Regions from separate parts of the Homo sapiens genome. Here region 2 is linked to region 1. Evidence: fine-mapped expression QTL. A gene starts in region 1. The other region holds a variant in brackets. All regions are shown on one strand. Distances are between the middles of the regions. Region 1 holds the start of RNF170 (ring finger protein 170). Region 2 holds the start of HGSNAT (heparan-alpha-glucosaminide N-acetyltransferase).

What was found.
Region 2: its variant is fine-mapped to the expression of RNF170 in whole blood (TOPMed, PIP 0.98).

The regions. Positions count from the first base shown.
Region 1 is chr8:42,891,210-42,899,660 of GRCh38, reverse strand. RNF170 (ring finger protein 170) reads left to right here and starts at 3,056. Exons shown (of 7, transcript NM_030954.4): 1 at 3,056-3,177. HOOK3 (hook microtubule tethering protein 3) reads right to left here and starts at 2,683. Exons shown (of 22, transcript NM_032410.4): 1 at 2,473-2,683. The coding sequence starts at 2,529. It overlaps MIR4469 (microRNA 4469), which reads left to right and starts at 3,386; the gene lies at 3,386-3,464. RefSeq lists silencers at 2,065-2,124, 2,135-2,924, 3,105-3,464, 3,260-3,471 and an enhancer at 3,378-3,939.
Region 2 is chr8:43,137,796-43,146,283 of GRCh38, reverse strand. It overlaps HGSNAT (heparan-alpha-glucosaminide N-acetyltransferase), which reads right to left and starts at 5,820. Exons shown (of 18, transcript NM_152419.3): 1 at 5,670-5,820. The coding sequence starts at 5,787. RefSeq lists silencers at 2,593-2,642, 4,841-5,220, 5,231-6,020 and an enhancer at 6,864-7,158. The variant A/G (reference allele first, on the strand shown) is at 4,693.

The DNA.
Region 1 (8,451 bases):
TAAATGAGTCTTTTCTTTGGAGTGTATGTGTACATTTTTGCTTGCATTTGGTTTTAGAATTGTGCTTAGCATTAATCTGGCTTACAGATAGGAGGGGTGATATTATACATTTAAATGTCATCAAACATTGCTCATTGAAACATTTATTCTGCTTTTTATAATGACAGCTAAAAGAGAACAAACCCAGCATTTAAACTCTATTTTGAAACATGTCTTTTAAAGTGTTTCCAAATTTTAGAACTGTACATCTTCATGAACACTGCCCTCCAATTTTGTCACTGATAATCTCTAATCTTATCCAGAAATTCTCATTGATGAGTTTCCAGTGACATTTCAAAAAGCCTATTCTACAATACTATACTCCCTGACCTCTCTACAGCTGATAATGTGGATTACTCGTTTTCTTGACATTTTAGGAGATTCTAAATAGATTCTCTCATGTTGTCAGGTTCTGTCAGCAGGCCTTCAAACTTCTAAGATTTCTCCTGTATATTTTTATCAGCATTTCTCACTTAAATAAATGCAATTACTACCTACCATATTTTGTGGATACCCTTCAAATACAGACGGTCCCCAACTTAGGATGGTTTAACTTAAGACTTTTCAACTTTACAATGATGCAAGATACACATTCAGTAGAAACCATACTCTGAGTGCCCATACAACCATTATATTTTTCATTTTCAGTACAGTGTTCAATAAATTGCATTAGATATTCAACAATTTATTATAAAACACGTTTTGTGGTAGATGATTTTGCCCAATTGTAGGCTAAGGTAAGTGTTCTGAGCACGTTTAAGGTAGACCAAGCTAAGCTACCGTTTGGACGGTTAGGCGTATGAAATGCATTTTCAACTTACGGTATTTTCAACTTATGATGGGTTTACCGGGATGTAACCCCATCGCAAGTTAAGGAGCCTCTGTACACCTCTTTATTTCCATGTCTTCTTTCTCCCTAGATTTTAAACAATGTAGCCCTACTTAGATTCAATTAGCTTCATCTTTGCCTTCTGGCTGCTTCTTCTAGCATAAAGGGAAGCACTACTTGCACAGTCTCAAAAACTTAAATCTTAAGTTCCTCAGCATTCTGTTTACAGATGTACAGATTCTGCCAAATCTATTCCTTCCACAACATCAAAGAATTTAGTAATTCTTTCCTCTCTCTCTCTCCCCTGCCTAGTCAGAAACCTCAGCCACATTATACAACTTACCAGTCTTCCTCTTTTCTGAAATACAGCAGTGAAAGCCATCTCCTTGCCTGGAGGGAGAACTCATCAGAAGGGTAAGCTGCACGCTAACTACATACTACTGCTAACGATCTGAAATCCCCTAAATGGTCTGATATGCAACTGGCTACTCAAGCTCTACCAAGTCTGTTTCAGAGGACAGAAATTGATTCGTGACGTAGCCAAACTATAAAAACCTCAGACTATTTTTATTAATTTTTTTAACAACCAACGTAAGGCAATACTTCTCCAGCCTTTCCAGCAAAGTGCCTTGCACAGGATCGTGACGTCTACACTCCAGGGATCCTGACTCGTAACCCAAGACACCGCTAAAGAGAATTTCTCTCACATTCGTGTTTTACCTTTAAAAGTAATACAAATGCTGTAGTAGCCTTCATAAACACATCCGTAAACATTTAATTAACATTCTCAGCAATGAGTGAAACGGAGGCTCCCGAAGGCAGCGCGGGGTCCGCCCGGGCTCTGCGCATCCCTCCCCCTCCCCGGCCGCGCCGCGGCGAGAACGACTGGAACCCGGGCGTCGGTTCCCCTGCCGCGTCCTGAAGACCCGGCTTCAGGAAGGCGCGGCAGCTGACGTGAGAGGTGAACATGTATTTACTTCAAAGTATGAGGAATCTAAAACCGTTTAAGAATTCAAAATCAGAATCCCACGACTCTGTCCCCCAAGGCCTTCGAGTTCCATTGTTGACGCCCAGACACCTCCAGACTCCTTTAAACGTCTGCCCGACGCCTCTGACAGGCGTCCGCCCCTCGCGCACTCCCACCGCCAGCGGTGCCTTGCATCCGAAACGGGGTCCCCGGGCGCCTCCCGCATTCTCCCCACGCTCCCTCACAGGTCCTTTCAGTTCCCGGGCCGGAGCCGGGCCCGTCCTCCGCGAACGCGGCAACAAAGGCGAGGAGCGGCGGCGGGTCCTGGACGCGGGGCAGTCAGGCTCGGCCACCCCCAGAGCGCAGCGCAGCCCCAGCTGCGAGCAGCCGCACGGATCCCAGAGTCGCCCGCCGCGTTCCCAGCCCAGCCCCGGCCGGGGTCCGCCCGGAACAGCGACGCCTCAGGCCCGGCAAGTCTCTCTCGGACCCTGGGCCGAGCCTCCTCGCCCCGCCCGCCCCAGGCCCCGGATGTGACGGCACCGTCGCCCGCAGCGCTCGCCCCACGGGCCGCGCGTGGAGGGTCCCGGTAGGTGGCGGGGGGAGGGGGTCTTCCCGCCGGCCCGCGGCCCCCACGTACCCAAGTGAGGAGGCTCTCGCACAGCTCCGCCCGCTCCAGCGACTCTACGCTGAACATCTTCCCCGCCGCGGCCAGGCAGCGCCTACCGCCTGGCCAGACACCGCCGCCGCTCTGTCGGGGGATCCGGGGGCCCGCGCAGCTGACTCGGCCTCAGGCCCGCCTGCTCCTCGGATCCGGCCGCCGACTCTCGCCCAGCGCTGGCAGCGGCTCCGCACCGTCACCCCCAGCGCCCCTCCTTCTCCTTTCACTCGGGACCGCGCGCCAGCCGCGCGCGACTTCGGACACGCCCGCCGCCCCGCGTCCCCGCCCCCGGCCGCCCACACCGCTCCTCCCCAGCGCCGCCGCCCTGGCTGGAGCCGAGGCCGAGGAGCCACTGCGCACGCTCGCGCCCCGGCCGACCCGCGCCGCCGCGCCGCCGCCGCCGCCGCCGCCGCCGCCGCTGCCGCCGGGCGCGCCCCCGCCACCAGTTCGCTGCGTGTCGAGGCGAGCACGCGCTCCGCCCTGGAGGCTGCGGCGACGGGTCCTCCTCCGCCGTCCGGTCGCGCCCTCGCGGAAGCTCGGCAGTGCGCGTGCGCCCGCACCCGCACTCCAAATTAGAAAGGGGACGTCTAGTGGGTTGCCCGGGAGGGGTGGCGGGAGCGGTCCTGGAAATAATCTGTCCTCTGTCGCCGGGAACTGGCGAGGTAGTTCCTTCGCGGTGGAGAGGTACGTCCGGCGCGCGGCGGCCACGCCCACCCTATCGGGGCCCGCGGAGCCGCGGACGGCGGGGTCTGGCCTTCTTGGGGTAGCTCTGGCCGCCGAGGCTCTGCGGGGCGGCGGGAGTCGCCGCCTCCTTCCCCCCGGGCCCCTCCCTCGTCTGGAAGCCCCAGAATCGCCCCGCGGCTGTCCGGAGTCGCCGGCGACGGTGGAGGGGCCGACGCGGAGAGCGGCTCTAGGTGGGTTTGGCGGCGGCGAGGACACCGCCGCTCCCTCTAGGGTCGCTCGGAGCGTGACCCTGAGAACTCTCCTTAATGCAGGAGGGGTGTGCGCCCGCTCGCCAATCCGTAAGGACACCGGCCGACCCCGGGCCTGCGTTTCTCAGCGTTCGGAGTTGCCTTCGCTTAATGGCGAGGCGGATCGTTCTGGAGCTTCCACCTCTTTAGAGGCACGAATCTGTCTGCTGGGCTGCCGATAAATTTTTAACAGATATAGCATACGCAGAAAAGTGCATACGACATACACGTTTAAAGAAGAATTAATAAAACACCCAGATAAAAACGAAAAGGGCATTACCGGCACCCCAGGAGTTTCTCACCCATGCCCTGTGCTCCTTTCGGAGCCTGATTGTCTCCTAGCCTGACTAGTGTGATCATTTCCTTACAGCTTTACCATCTATGTGTGCATGCGATGTCGTTTTCCTTTGCCTGTTTTTGAACTTTTGCGGGTGGATCACAGTGTGTTGTTTTGTGGTTTTCAATCAGTATTAAATTGGTGTACTGTGTATGTATAGGTAATTTTAATTGTTGCCTAGTATTCCAGTGTGAATAGAACAGTGAATCCATTCTACTCTGGTTGGGCATTTTGTTCAGACTGAGGCCACTCAGAACATGGCTATAAACATTCTAGTGTACCTGGAACGTAGTGCAAATATGTTGGAATTTCCAGGACATGCACTTTGGAGTCCTTAGAGAATTGTCGATGCGTAGAGTATGCATAACTACCACCCAATGCCAAATTTTTATTTGGAGTGCAACAAAGCTAACTTCCCAAGACACACTTTGCTTTGTAGTTCCTGGAACCCCTTTCCCCCACTTTTTTTCCATTAAGAGTAGGTTTTCTCATTGAGCACTGAAAACTGCCAAGACAGCATTGAGTGGGGTTTTTTGTTGTTGTTGATGGTGGTTTTTGAGAAAGGGTCTCGTTCTGGAGTGCAGTGGCGCAATCTTGGTTCACTGCAACCTCTGCCTCCTGGGCTCAAGTGATCCTCCTACCTCAGCCTCCCAAGTAGCTGGAACCACAGGTGCAGGCCACGATGCTCAGCTAATTTTCTTATTTTTTGTAGAGAGGGGGTCTCGCTATGTTGCCCAGGCTGGTCTCAAATTCCTGGGCTCAAGTGATCCGCCCGCCTTAGCCTCCCAAAAGTGCTGGGATCAAAAGTGTGAGCCACCGAGCCTGGGTCAGCAGTGAGTTTTTAAGGTTGCCTTACAGAGTACCACTTGATAGTTGACCCCTGATCATTTAGCATTTTGTAAGTGTAAAAAAAAAAAAACTTACCTGAAGTATTCTCAATGGTCTTTTTTTCAAACATTCTTCCCTACACCAAGGGCAGAGAAACCTTTAGAAATTACACATACGTGGCCAGGCGCGGTGTCTCGCGCCTGTAATCCCAGCACTTTGGGAGGCCGAGGCGAGCGGATCACGATGTCAAGAGATCCTGGCCAACATGGTGAAACCCCGTCTCTACTAAAAATACAAAAATTAGCCGGGCGTGGTGGCGGGCTCCTGTAGTCCCAGCTACTCGGGAGGCTGAGGCAGGAGAATCGCTTGAACGCGGGAGGCTGAGGTTGCAGTGAGCCGAGATCGCGCCACTGCACTCCATCCTGACGACAGAACGAGAATCTGTCTCAAAAGAAAAAAAAAATTACACATGTGTGTCTCGCCTGTGTTTGGTTCCTGTGTTGGTGCCTCTGGATATTTGTCAAACTAGAGTTCCTACATTCCTTATCAGGTTATTTCTGTCGAATCTCTAGCACTTTTAAGTGACGTATAATCTTGTAGGCAAGTGAATGAAGTCAGTGAGTATATGTCACATTGACTTACTCCTGACTCACATGCAGCTTGTCTTTAGATGGGCAGATAAGATGCTGGCCCTACTGGAGCGACTGTGGTTGTGCCGTCCTGAGCACCCTTCCTCCAGTGGCCCCGGTTTTCAAGGCTTTGACACAATGGACCTAAAGTCTCCTTTTTCAAGCTTGGCTGCATATCCACAGTGCTTTTGTGCATGATGTTACGTTGTTCTGGAGGTTTCATTTTGTAATTCCAGTTACCTTTGATGAAAGAAATTAGTAAAAACTTTTTGGATGTGAGTAATTGCAGAAGCCATGTGGCTGCTGAGTTTCTACGTAAGCCTTGGGGTAAAAAGACACTGAGATTCTCTCCTTTGTTCCAGGAAGTCCCGGAATTTCCTATTTTTCTATTTTCTCTGTGTGTTTTATTTTTTTTCCTTCCCTGAAAGCTTTGGAAATGCCTGAGGAGAGGTGAGTTGAACTTGTCTTAGCTGTCTGGTTACTCCGGTTAGTTGGAGGCTAGTTCTCACCCACAGCTGCTTATCAGATTAAAGAGGGCATGTCCTGTGTGACAGTGCTCCAGATTGCATCCTGTCTTCCCAGGGAACACATACTTAGAGCTGTGATTAAAGAGAGTTTGAGATGCTATGTGGAGCAGCTCTGGGGCAGGCATGGCTAGTTTTTATCATATCAAAACATGGCTAGTTTTATCATGATTCCTTGGCGGTTGTTAATAATATTAACCAAACACTGTAGCTTCCATTTACTGAGAGCCTATATGATGTGCCAAGCAGTATGCTAAATGCCTTACCTTCATTATCTCATTATAAACTTCACAAGGCAAAGCACTTCCCCTGCCACACCCGCCCCAAAAAAGAGTGGCAGTTTGATATGGTTCAACCTAATGCCTTTTACGTATGAGGAAGCTGAGACTGAAACTTTATGTAAGTCCAGGGCTGTCTGACTCTGGAACTTGTGCTTGTTTGCTGTCTGAAGATACTGCTCAATAAGATGTAGCCAGCTGAGCAATAGCAAAGCCAGTTTCTCTGCAAACTTCTATCAGTTACACTGCACAGTTTCCAAGATGGATGGGGTTCAGTTTTTGTGAATCTTAAACAGTTCAAAACCGAGTATTAGTAACTCTTCTTTTCATATTTTACAGGATACCATGAAATAGATTACATCCCATGTTCTATACATTTAATAACCTTGTTTTTGGGTTTAATGTAAACAACCTTTAGTGGCCACTACAACATGTAAGACCCTGCGCACTACTAACAGTAATAAGATATGATTCCTGACTGAAAGGAATTCATTCTTTAAAAATGTATTTTTAATTTTTATAGATGTATAATAGTTGTACATATTTATGGGGTACCTGTGGTATTTTTATACAAATATGTACAATGTGTAATGATCAAATCTGGGCAGTTTTTTGAGACAAGGTCTTGTTCTGTCACCGAGGCTGGAGTGCAGTGGTGCGATCTTGGCTCACTGCAACCTCTGCCCCCCAGGTTCAAGCAATTCTCATGCCTCAGCCTCCCGAGTAGCTGGGATCACAGGCGTGTGCCACCACGTCTGGCTAATTTTTGTATTTTTAGTAAAGATGGCGTTTCACCATGTTGGCCAGGCTGGTCTCAAACTCCTGGCTTCAAGTGATCCACCCACCTTGGCATCCCAAAATGCTGTGATTACAGGCGTGAATCACAGCACTGGCCTGAATCTAGGGTTTAAAAAAAAAAAAAAAAACGCTGCAACAGAGCCTCCAAATAACATGAAAAAATAAATCCAGTAAGATATTACTTTATATGCTTGGAACTAAGTGCTTAACATTCTGTGATTAATAATAATAAAATTTTGAGGGTGAAGCAATTGAGCACAGTATCTACATATTCTAAAACTGAACTGTAGTCACTTGTGGATTCTGTAAATATTTGGCACCAATAAACATTAATTTTTGGCTGGGCGTGCTACCTCACGCCTATAATCCTAGCACTTTGGGAGGCCTAGGTGGGTAAATTCCTTGACCCCAGGAGTTGGAGACCAGCTTGGGCAAGATGGTGAAACCCATCTCTACAAAAAATAAAACATTTAACTGAGCTTAGTGGTGCACACCTGTAGTCACAGCAGGAAGACTGATTGAGCCTGGGAGGTCGAGGCTGCAGTGAGCCAAGGGTGCACCACTGCACTCCAGCCTGGGTGACAGAACAAGACCCTGTCTCAAAAAATAAATTTTAAAAATTTATAAACATTAATTTGAGCAATATCTGTTTTTCAAGAAGGAAATTTGTGGTGTAGTGAGAGTGTTTAGCAGTTGACATGCCAGTCATGCCACTTAGGTCAGTGTAGGTGCCTCCGGAGTAGGCACCGTCAGGAAACTGAGCGACTGGGTGGTAGATGAGAATGGGCATTGACCGGGCATTGAAGCTCAGTTTGCATATCGAGAGAGGAAGCAAGTATTGGCTTTATTTTTCTTGTTAAAGTAATTCATACTTGAAAGAATTGAAACTGTGAAACTGTGTCCTAGGGAGGGTGATGGTCTGGTTTTGCCAGTCCAGCTTCTCACTGATAACCACTCTAATGTTAGCTTTGATGTGGCTTTTTCTCTATTCCGAAACTCTGAATCAGAGAAATTTAGCAGTAGAAGGAAGTGAAGAAATAAAGTCACAGTTGTTAACCTAAAATAATTTAAAAGGTCAAAATCGAGTTTAAAGAGAGTTTAAGTGTAAAGGTTGAGGACAGGCCACCTGGGAAAGGACAGATTTAAAAGCATGGAAGTCAGTGCTCGTCAGTATAGACATTTGGGATTGTTTATATAGACAAAATTTAGGGACATTTAACAGAATTTTAATATCTTAATGTAAGGCTTAATGTACAGTTATAATGATCTGATTAGTCAAGGTGCGTTTTTTAGGGAAGAAAGAATGTAACTGTCATGAGACCCCTGTTTGGGGCACCATCTGGTCTGAGTTAGGTACAGGACAATAAAGGAGGCAGTTAATCTGTAATAAAAATCAGCAATTAGAAGGAGGAGATCTGGTCTCTTTTAAAAAAAAGACTTAGTCTTTTTTTAGTTGTTTATAGAACAAGAACAATGAGGAAGAGTTAAGCTAAAAATCTAAGAAACAGAATTGTAAACATGTTACGTGACCCAGATCATAGTCATATCTCTTTCAAGGCTTAAGGTGCTTTGGAGGTTCTAAAAACGTTTGAA
Region 2 (8,488 bases), 250 kb before region 1:
TTTGGAGTTTGGAATATCCTAATTTCCATGGCAGATCGGAGAGGGGTAAGCAGACAGTTTTAAGACAAGCCTCAGTCTGAAGGGCAGAGAAACTCACTGCTCCTGGATTGGGAGCAGTGAATCCTGGATTGGGAGCATGCCCCAATCCAGAAACTCACACAGCTCACCAGTTCACTAGATGATGTGCTGAGGATGACAGAAAGATGACGCACATTCTAAAATCACGTGTGCCAATTTGGTAGGAAAAATAAAGTGAACTGCTCTTGTCTAAAAGTCAAAGCAGAGTGGTTCATGTCAACCAACTGGGCCATTTATATGATATTATATAAAAGAGAAGTTAATTTATCCTCTGAGTAAATTTACCCAAAAGAAAAAAATGGGGAACTACTTAATAACACAATGAGGAAGGTAAGAACTCGGTCTCTATTTTGTAATGGGAAAGCTTCCTCTGGGCTCCCTAGTCACTCATTTGAATGGCAGAATCATGAATTCTTCACGTAGCCAGCTCAATCCCTCTTTCTTTCTTTTTTTTTTAAATGGAGTCTTGCTCTGTCACCCAGGCTGGAGTGCAGTGGCGCGATCTCGGCTCACTGCAACCTCTACCACTCGGGTTCAAGCCATTCTCCTGCCTCAGCCTCCTGAGTAGCTGGGACTACAGGCACGCACCACCAAACCCAGCTAATTTTTGTATTTTTAGTAGTGACGGGGTTTCACCACATTGGCCAGGATGGTCTCGATCTCTTGACCTCGTGATCTGCCTGCCTCGGCCTCCCAAAGTGCTGGGATTATAGGCATGAGCCACTGTGCCGGGCCTCAATCCCTCATTTTTAAGTTTATCTTACTTTACCCTTATTTAGCTCTCAGTGAAGACAAGCCCTGCAGTATAAAACTCTTAATCCACTAGAGCTGGCTTTTCCTTGGTGATGAAGGGGTAGAGATTGAGCCATGGGGATGCTTTAGGTTAAAGAATGCTTTTTTTTGGCCATCATGAGGATCTAACAACAGAGTAGAAGGAAGGATGCCCTAGGTCAGCACGCAGGGTGGTGGGAGGGCTTTCATCTTCCTTACCCAAGCCTCTCTTTTCACTTTTCTAGAAGTTCGGAAGTTGTTATATGATGAAATAGCCTCCTTTAACGTTTATTTCTGGGTGCCAAGGGAGGCCCATTCCTCTAACATTCTGATAATTCTTCTCAAAGGCCTATGATCTAAACATTTCACCATGGCATCCACTTAGCTGTGAGGCTGCATACACAGTCTCCACCTCTGAAATCTGAACTTCATTTACCAGTGGTGCTGTTTGAACTTCATAATGCCAGCACTTCCTGAACACTTACTGTGTGCCTGGCTTGTGTTCCTGAGTGCCTTATATCACAAGGAAACGGCAAAATCAGGGGACTGGTGTAAGTGGTGAAGCTGGGCTTGAATCTAAGCTTTGTCTTCAGAGCCAGTACCCCTAACCTCTCTTTCTGTAAAACATTACTTTTCAAAGAATGAAGTTGTAGCCAAATCTTGAAATTTTTCATTTACCCTAAGTGAGAACAAATAAAGCTTTCAGCAAAATAATAATAATAATAATAATCCACTATAGCTTTTGGTTCTCTAGGCCAAAGAAAGCTTTCACAATCATTTTTTCTGTTCTTTGGTCTCCTGGAAAGCTTTCAGTGGAAGCGATGTTTGGGACCTGGAGTATGACATAGTGGGATAAATTCAAGTTAAACTTGAATCTGAAGCCCAACTTGCCTCAGTTTCCTCACCAATAAATTAAGGGTCATAAGAGTATGTGCCTCATGAAACCGTTGGGAAATCTAAACTTGACCATCTACAAAGTGGCTGGCACAGAAACAAGTGCTCAACACATAGACATTACAGTGATCCAGGCCACATCCAACCAATGCAGAGACCAACAGAGCCTCTTCAGGATCGGGAACATCCAGTTAAAATTTTTTTTTTTTTTTTTTTGAGACAGAGTCTCGCTCTGTCTCCCAGGCTGGAGTGCAGTGGCAAGATCTCGGCCCACTGCAGCCTCAACCTCCTGAGTTCAAGCAATCCTCCCACCTCAGCCTCCCAAGTAGCTGGGACTACAGGGGCATGCCAGCACATCCAGCTAATTTTTTTTTGTCTTTTTTTGTAGACACAGGGTTTCACCATGTTACCTAGGCTGGTCTCAACTTCCTGGGGTCAAGTGATCTGCCCACCTCGACCTCCCAAAAGTGCTAGGACTACAGGCGTGAGCCACCACACCGGGCCCAAGAGTAAAATCTTTAACCAAAAACAGGCTTTTGAATAGCTTCTGATATGCATTACAAAATTTCTCTCCAATTCAGTTGTGCTGATTTCTAATGACAACTGTGATGGTTGAGATCTCCCAGGTAATACAAAGAACCACACTTACCAAAGAACCACCAGGCCCCAAGAGCCCTATGAAATAGCTCCTGGTGGGCCAGGCACGGTGGCTCACACCTGTAATCCCAGCAGTTTGGGAGGCTAAGGAGGGTGGATCATGAGGTCAGGGGATTGAGACCATCCTGGCTAACACGGTGAAACCCCATCTCTACTAAAAAATACAAAAAAAAAAAAAATTAGCCAGGCGTGATGGTGGGTGCCTATAGTCCCAGCTACTCGGGAGGCTGAGTCAGGAGAATGGTGTGAACCCAGGAGGCGGAGCTTGCAGTGAGCTGAGTTCGCACCACTGCACTCCAGCCTGGGCGACAGAGCGAGACTCTGTCTCAAAAAAAAAAAAAAGAAAGAAAGAAATAGCTCCTGGTGTCTCCATTTTGGGATGAGGCATCTGAGGCCTGAAGAGGTCAAGCAGCTTGCCCAAAGTCACCTACTAGCAGCCAGGATTTAAGCTGAGGTCAGTCTAACTGTGCACATAACGGCTAACCAGTCTCCTGAGCCTCAACAGATCCCTCCCTATAAGCCCAGCCAGATTAGCCTTTCCATGTTTCCCTCATATGTTAGCCTGGTGGATAGAAAATGGCACGTCCTAATTATTTTAGTTTTGAATTTGTGATTAACAAGTTTGAACATGTTTTCCAAATGTTTACCATCAGTATGTGACTTTCATATTAATTCCTGAATCATTTATTTATTTAACCACCTTTATTTAATCCCTGACACCTTCTGAGGTATTTGCATAACTTCTCTACATTAAAGACAAAAATATTAAATCCTTTGTCAATTTGTCATCGTTTTAAAATAGTTCTTTTTCATTTCCCTTCTTCAGTTTTAATGGCTTCCATTTTCACATTTCTAGTCACTCTCTGTAGACTTTTTCCTACACTTGATCATACCCAAGAGACCATGAAGCCATGAGCTTTTCCTTCGTAATTTCTCCACACATCATCATCCCTTCGTAGATGGAATAAGTACTGTGTGTACTCATGTTTCTCTAAGCCTTTGGTGGTGGGCGGAATAAGGTACTTGTTTTATACTTAGATTATCCACACGAATTTTAGGCTGAAAGCTCTTCATTGTCATTGTTACTAACTATGCTATTTGGGAATGTGCAGAGGGGCTCAGTCTTCATTGAATGTCAAAATTACCTGAGGAAGCTCTAAAAAAACTACAAAAGTTACCAATGCCCTGGCCCCATTCCAGACCAATTAAATCAGAATCTCTGCCCAATCAGCATGATTTTTTTAATTTCCCACAAAAAACAACGAACCTCCCAAAGGGATTCGAGTGTGCAGCCGAGGGTGAAGACCACAGCTAGGGAACCACAGCTAGAGACTGTCAGAGTAACGCCAGCGGATTTTGACACCTTTTTTTTTCACTTTGCATTATTTGAATGTGGTTTTTAAAAATAATAATAACAGTCTGTATCACTTACAGACACGACCAAAGGACCCAATTACTAAGCCATCAAATAAGTCATCAAATATGACCTCGAAACTGAGCTTGATGTTCAGCTTCAAGAAAAAGCTGTCACCTTCCCACACAGCAGCTGACCTAAGAAATTCCAGGGCAATACCCCCAGAGCGTTACAGACAAAAGAACAATTATTTCCTTCTCTCTCCTCTGGTCTACCTCGTCTTGGTGGGCAAATTACCAAATAAAGTCACCTTCCAATGGTGCGGGGATAAATGTGCTGCTTGTGTATTACACCTTTATTTCCTTTCCAAATATTTAATTTCTGGTCTAGCTCTCTGCTCGTGAGTTATCTTTGCTGGGCATATTTTTAAAGACATAGTCTACTTTTTTTTTTCTTCAAGCAAATGCTGAATTTTCAAAAAGAAGGAAGATGATGACGTTTTTAGTAGGAAAGCTGTGCGGCCCAAACATGGGCTCCAGGTGACAGGGAAAGCCTTGCGGTCCCAACGCGGCTTCCCCTCACTACGTGTGATTACTATTTACAAACCACCTCTCTCTAAAAGTAAGTGCCCTTTGATAAGCTAATACTGGCGCTAAAATGCAAAGAGTGTTCGGCGGGATCAGTCCCTGACAAATTGTGATCAGGCAGATTACATAACCTCCCCGGGGTCCTTGCAATTTTAAAGGAGGGGAGCGCAGGAGATGAAGGTTGGGTGGATCAAGGATCGCACAAAATGTAATCCTCTGAGCCGCTTTTCCAAAATTCACAACGCCTTTCTCCTCCAGCTTCTGCTTGGAGAGGAGGGGTCGTTTGAACTCCATACACAGACACTAAAACTTCGTATTCTGACCAAGAAAAGGGCGCGAGAGGGGAAAGAC[A/G]GGTGACTCCCACCGTCCCTCCTACCCAAAGGGGTTTGCGATGCTTGCCCGACCCCTCTGGGAGGGGCGTGTGCGAAGGACCTAGGGCCTGGGGCTCCCCGGTGCAGGGGTCTAGATGGAGACCTGGAATCTGTATTTGTCACCGTTTTCCCCACCGAGTTCGGAGAGCAAGCCAGTTGTGCAATCACGGTATGAGCTGAGCGCCTCTTAAGCCAGCGCACCGGACAAACGCCCGGGGTCCGGGGCCCGGGGCAAAAGCGCCCAGCCCGGCCCCTCCCAGGCGGCGGCGGCGGCGGCGGCGGCTTCCCAGTCACCCTGGAGGGAAAACGCGCCGAGGGGAGACGCGCGGAGGGCTCGCCCGGGACCGGGCTGCAGGCCGCGCCCCCACCGCCTTCTCCGCGGTTCCTCACCCGCCGCACATCCACGCAGGTTCAACCCCAGCGCGGGGCGAACGCGCGTCCCGGCCCCAGGCTTCCCACCCGCTGAAGCCAATGGGTCGCACGGCTCCGGCGCCACGTCCTCGGGGGCGAGGCCCTCAGGGAAGGGACCCTGCTCTAAGTCCCTCCGAACAGTGGACTGGGTGCAGGGGGAGTCCGAGCCCCCCCGATCCTCGGCTGGCCCGCCTCCTGGCTGCCAGTTTGTGGGGTCCCGGCGTCCCGATCCGCGGCCTCTGTTTAGACGGAAGGCGCCAGGACGCAGGCTCCGCTGGGGTGGGCGCCGCCTGGGCGCCCAGGTTCCACTCCGCCGCGGTCCGAACCGCCCCCTCCCCCGCCTCCGCGGGGCCCGGCCGCAGCACCCCGAAGTCCGGCCTCCGGTCTGGGGCGCGGGACCGCGAAGTCGCAGCAACAGCCCAGGCCACGGGGGCGGTTCCGGCCCGGCCTAGCGCTCGGCGCCGCGCACGGAGATAGGGGCGGCGCCGCGGAGAGGAGACGCTGCGCTCGTAGCCGGCCGGGCGGCGGTAGGAGGTGTGCACTCACCTCGTGGCGGCGCGGCCTGGGCATCGCGCCCCGAAGAGCCGCCGGGGGCCAGCAGCGCGGCGCTCAGCACGGACGCGGCCAGCAGCAGCGCGGCCAGCGCCCTGCCCGCCCCGCTCATGCCCGCCGCCCGCTCGGCCGCCCTTGCCTGCCCGCTGCGCCCCGCCCTGCGCTGCTCCGCCGCGGACGCCCGCGCGCCCGTCATCGCCCCCTCCGCTGCCGTCACCGCCGCCTGAGTCACCGCGGGAGGCGGAGGCGCCCGGGAGCCGCGGGCGGGGGAACCTAGGGGCTGGGCCGGGCCATGCTAGGCCCTGCCTTGAGGGAGCTGGCCAGGAAAGAAGCCGAGGCTCTGCGCCCCTGCGTTGGGAGTGTTTGTCTTCGGGAGGAAAAACAGCCGGAAGAGAGGCCCCTGCAGGCCAGGAGCCTTCTTCCCTCGCCCCACCTTCTCCAGCCGCATTCTGCCAAACTCCCGCCCCCGCCGGCCACCCTCCGCACGGGTGTTAGAGCCCTCGGTCCCTGTTTTGGAAAACGCCTCAATAAGCAAGACTGCAAAGTCCCTGCCCCCAAGGCGTTTATTACCCAGAGGGAGAGGCACGACTTAGAAGCCACCAAGCGGCCCCACCTCTTGAAAGAGCCCCCGGCCAGGCTGACGAAGTGGAAGGGAGCAGGTCGAGGAGTGTGCACACCCATTCTTGGCTGTATGCCGGGAGACACTATCGCAGGTATAAGGGACAGGTACAGTAATACCTATAGCAGAGGTGCTTGTAATTGCAAAACCTTGTCAACAAGCTGAATGTCCGCCAGCGAGAAAACAAACTGCCCCACAGCAGGGGAAGTGCTCTACAGCTTCCCGCATCCACATGGATAAATCTCAAAACACAAGGCTGGGGAAAATGCAAATTGCAGAATGCCTTTTTAATATATAAAGCAAAACAATAATGTATGTTGTTTAGGGACATCCATATATGTAATAAAAATACAAAGGCACACATGAAAATGTTGCGGGACTTTTCCTTAGTTCAGCTAAAGACGGTGGAGGTCCTTGTCACACGCCAGGAAAGATTAGGCTCGCAGACAATTTGAAGGGTAAGGCAGGGTTTTATTGGGTGTAAAGGAAGAAAAAGGGGAACAGGGACTCAGCAGAGCCAGAGTTCTCCTAGTTGTAGGCTTCCCACCTCACAGATTAAATCCCAGGTTCTCCCGAGGAAGAGGAGGGCCAGGCTCCTCCCAGCTGCAAACTGAGGAGCGAACTTCTGTGGCTCCACCCCAGAGCAGTGCACAGGCCAGTTGGAGTTTTACCAGGGAACCCTTCCCATCTGGCTCATTCCTCGCTCTAAAGAAGTCTATCTAACTGCCACTAGGATAAGAATAGGGACAAAGACAGATCTTAACTGCTTCCTGCTGATAGGGGGCACTGTTTCGGGAAAATGGCAATCAGATCTCCCTCAGAGGCCTATCTAAGGGTGCCCAGCAGAAGGGGCCATGGTCCGAGCTTCCAGTAGCATGACCGTTTGATGTCCTGAAGGCAAGAAGAGACAAACTGGGTTATTAAACACATATGGCCGGGCACAGTGGCTCACGCCTGTAATCCCAGCACTTTGGGAGGCCAAGGCAGGTGGATCACGAGGTCAAGAAATCGAGACCATCCTGGCCAACATGGTGAAACCCTGTCACTACTAAAAATACAAAAAATTAGCCGGGCGTCATGGCAAGTACCTGTAGTCCCAGCTACTTGGGAGGCTGAGGCAGGAGAATCACTTGAATCCGGGAGGCAGAGTTTGCAGTGAGCCAAGATTATGCCACTGCACTCCAGCCTGGCAGGTCAGGAGTTCAAGACCAGCCTGGCCAACATGGTGAAACCCTGTCTCTACTAAAAATACAAAAATTAGCCAGCAGTGGTGGTGCCTGCCTGTACTCCCAGCTACTTAGGAGGTTGAGGCAGGAGAATCGTTTGAACGGAGGTTGCAGTGAGCCAAGACCACATCACTGCACTCCAGCCTGGGCGACAGAGTGAGACCCTGTCTCAAAAAAAAAAAGAAAAGAAAAGAAACAAGGGGAGGGATAAGGACAGCTCAAAAATCCTGAGGCTTTTTACCAATTTGTACACGGAGAAGGGGGCCAAAAGTCCGAATGGTAAACAACTTTACCCTTTTGCTGGCATGTTGGGCTTCTGGGTTCCCTTCCCCTGAAACCAATCCTAAGCCAGCCAGTTTAAGGTTTAGGAAATTAACTCTTTCCAGTTTGGAAAATGCATCTGAGGGGAGTGTCCCATAGTATGGAGACACAATTAGGATTGTCATTGTGAACCGAGGAGGAGAAAGGAAAAAAGAAGGCATTTTTTCAAAGGAATCCGAAGGGTTCCAGATGCATTTGAAAGTGGTGCAGACTGAAGATAAATGGCTACCCACATAGAAAGAGGGGAGCAGGCATCCCTGGTTCTTTTCCTAGCAAATACCTGGGGTACGTGAGGGATAGAAGGAATAGCGTCCTCTTCCATCCTTGCATCCCCATGCAACCTTCGAAAGTGCTACCATGGGTGCCAAAATGGCTTGCATCCATGAAGCAGGGGTCTAGAGGGTGGGAATTATCTCCTCTACCCATGAATGCCCTATCACCCCTGCTGTCAGTAGTCTTGGAGTTCCCTAGACCTCACTTATGCTCAGGGGTTGAGGGGTTGCATGGACTCCTTCTCGTAAGCCAAATGCTAAGGAAAAACTGTGGAACTGAGTCCTCCAACAAGGGAGAGAAAAGGATGTCTTGTGACACACCCAGATAACTGGTGGCTACAGTTATGTTTGGTAGGATTTGGGTGCATGGTGCTT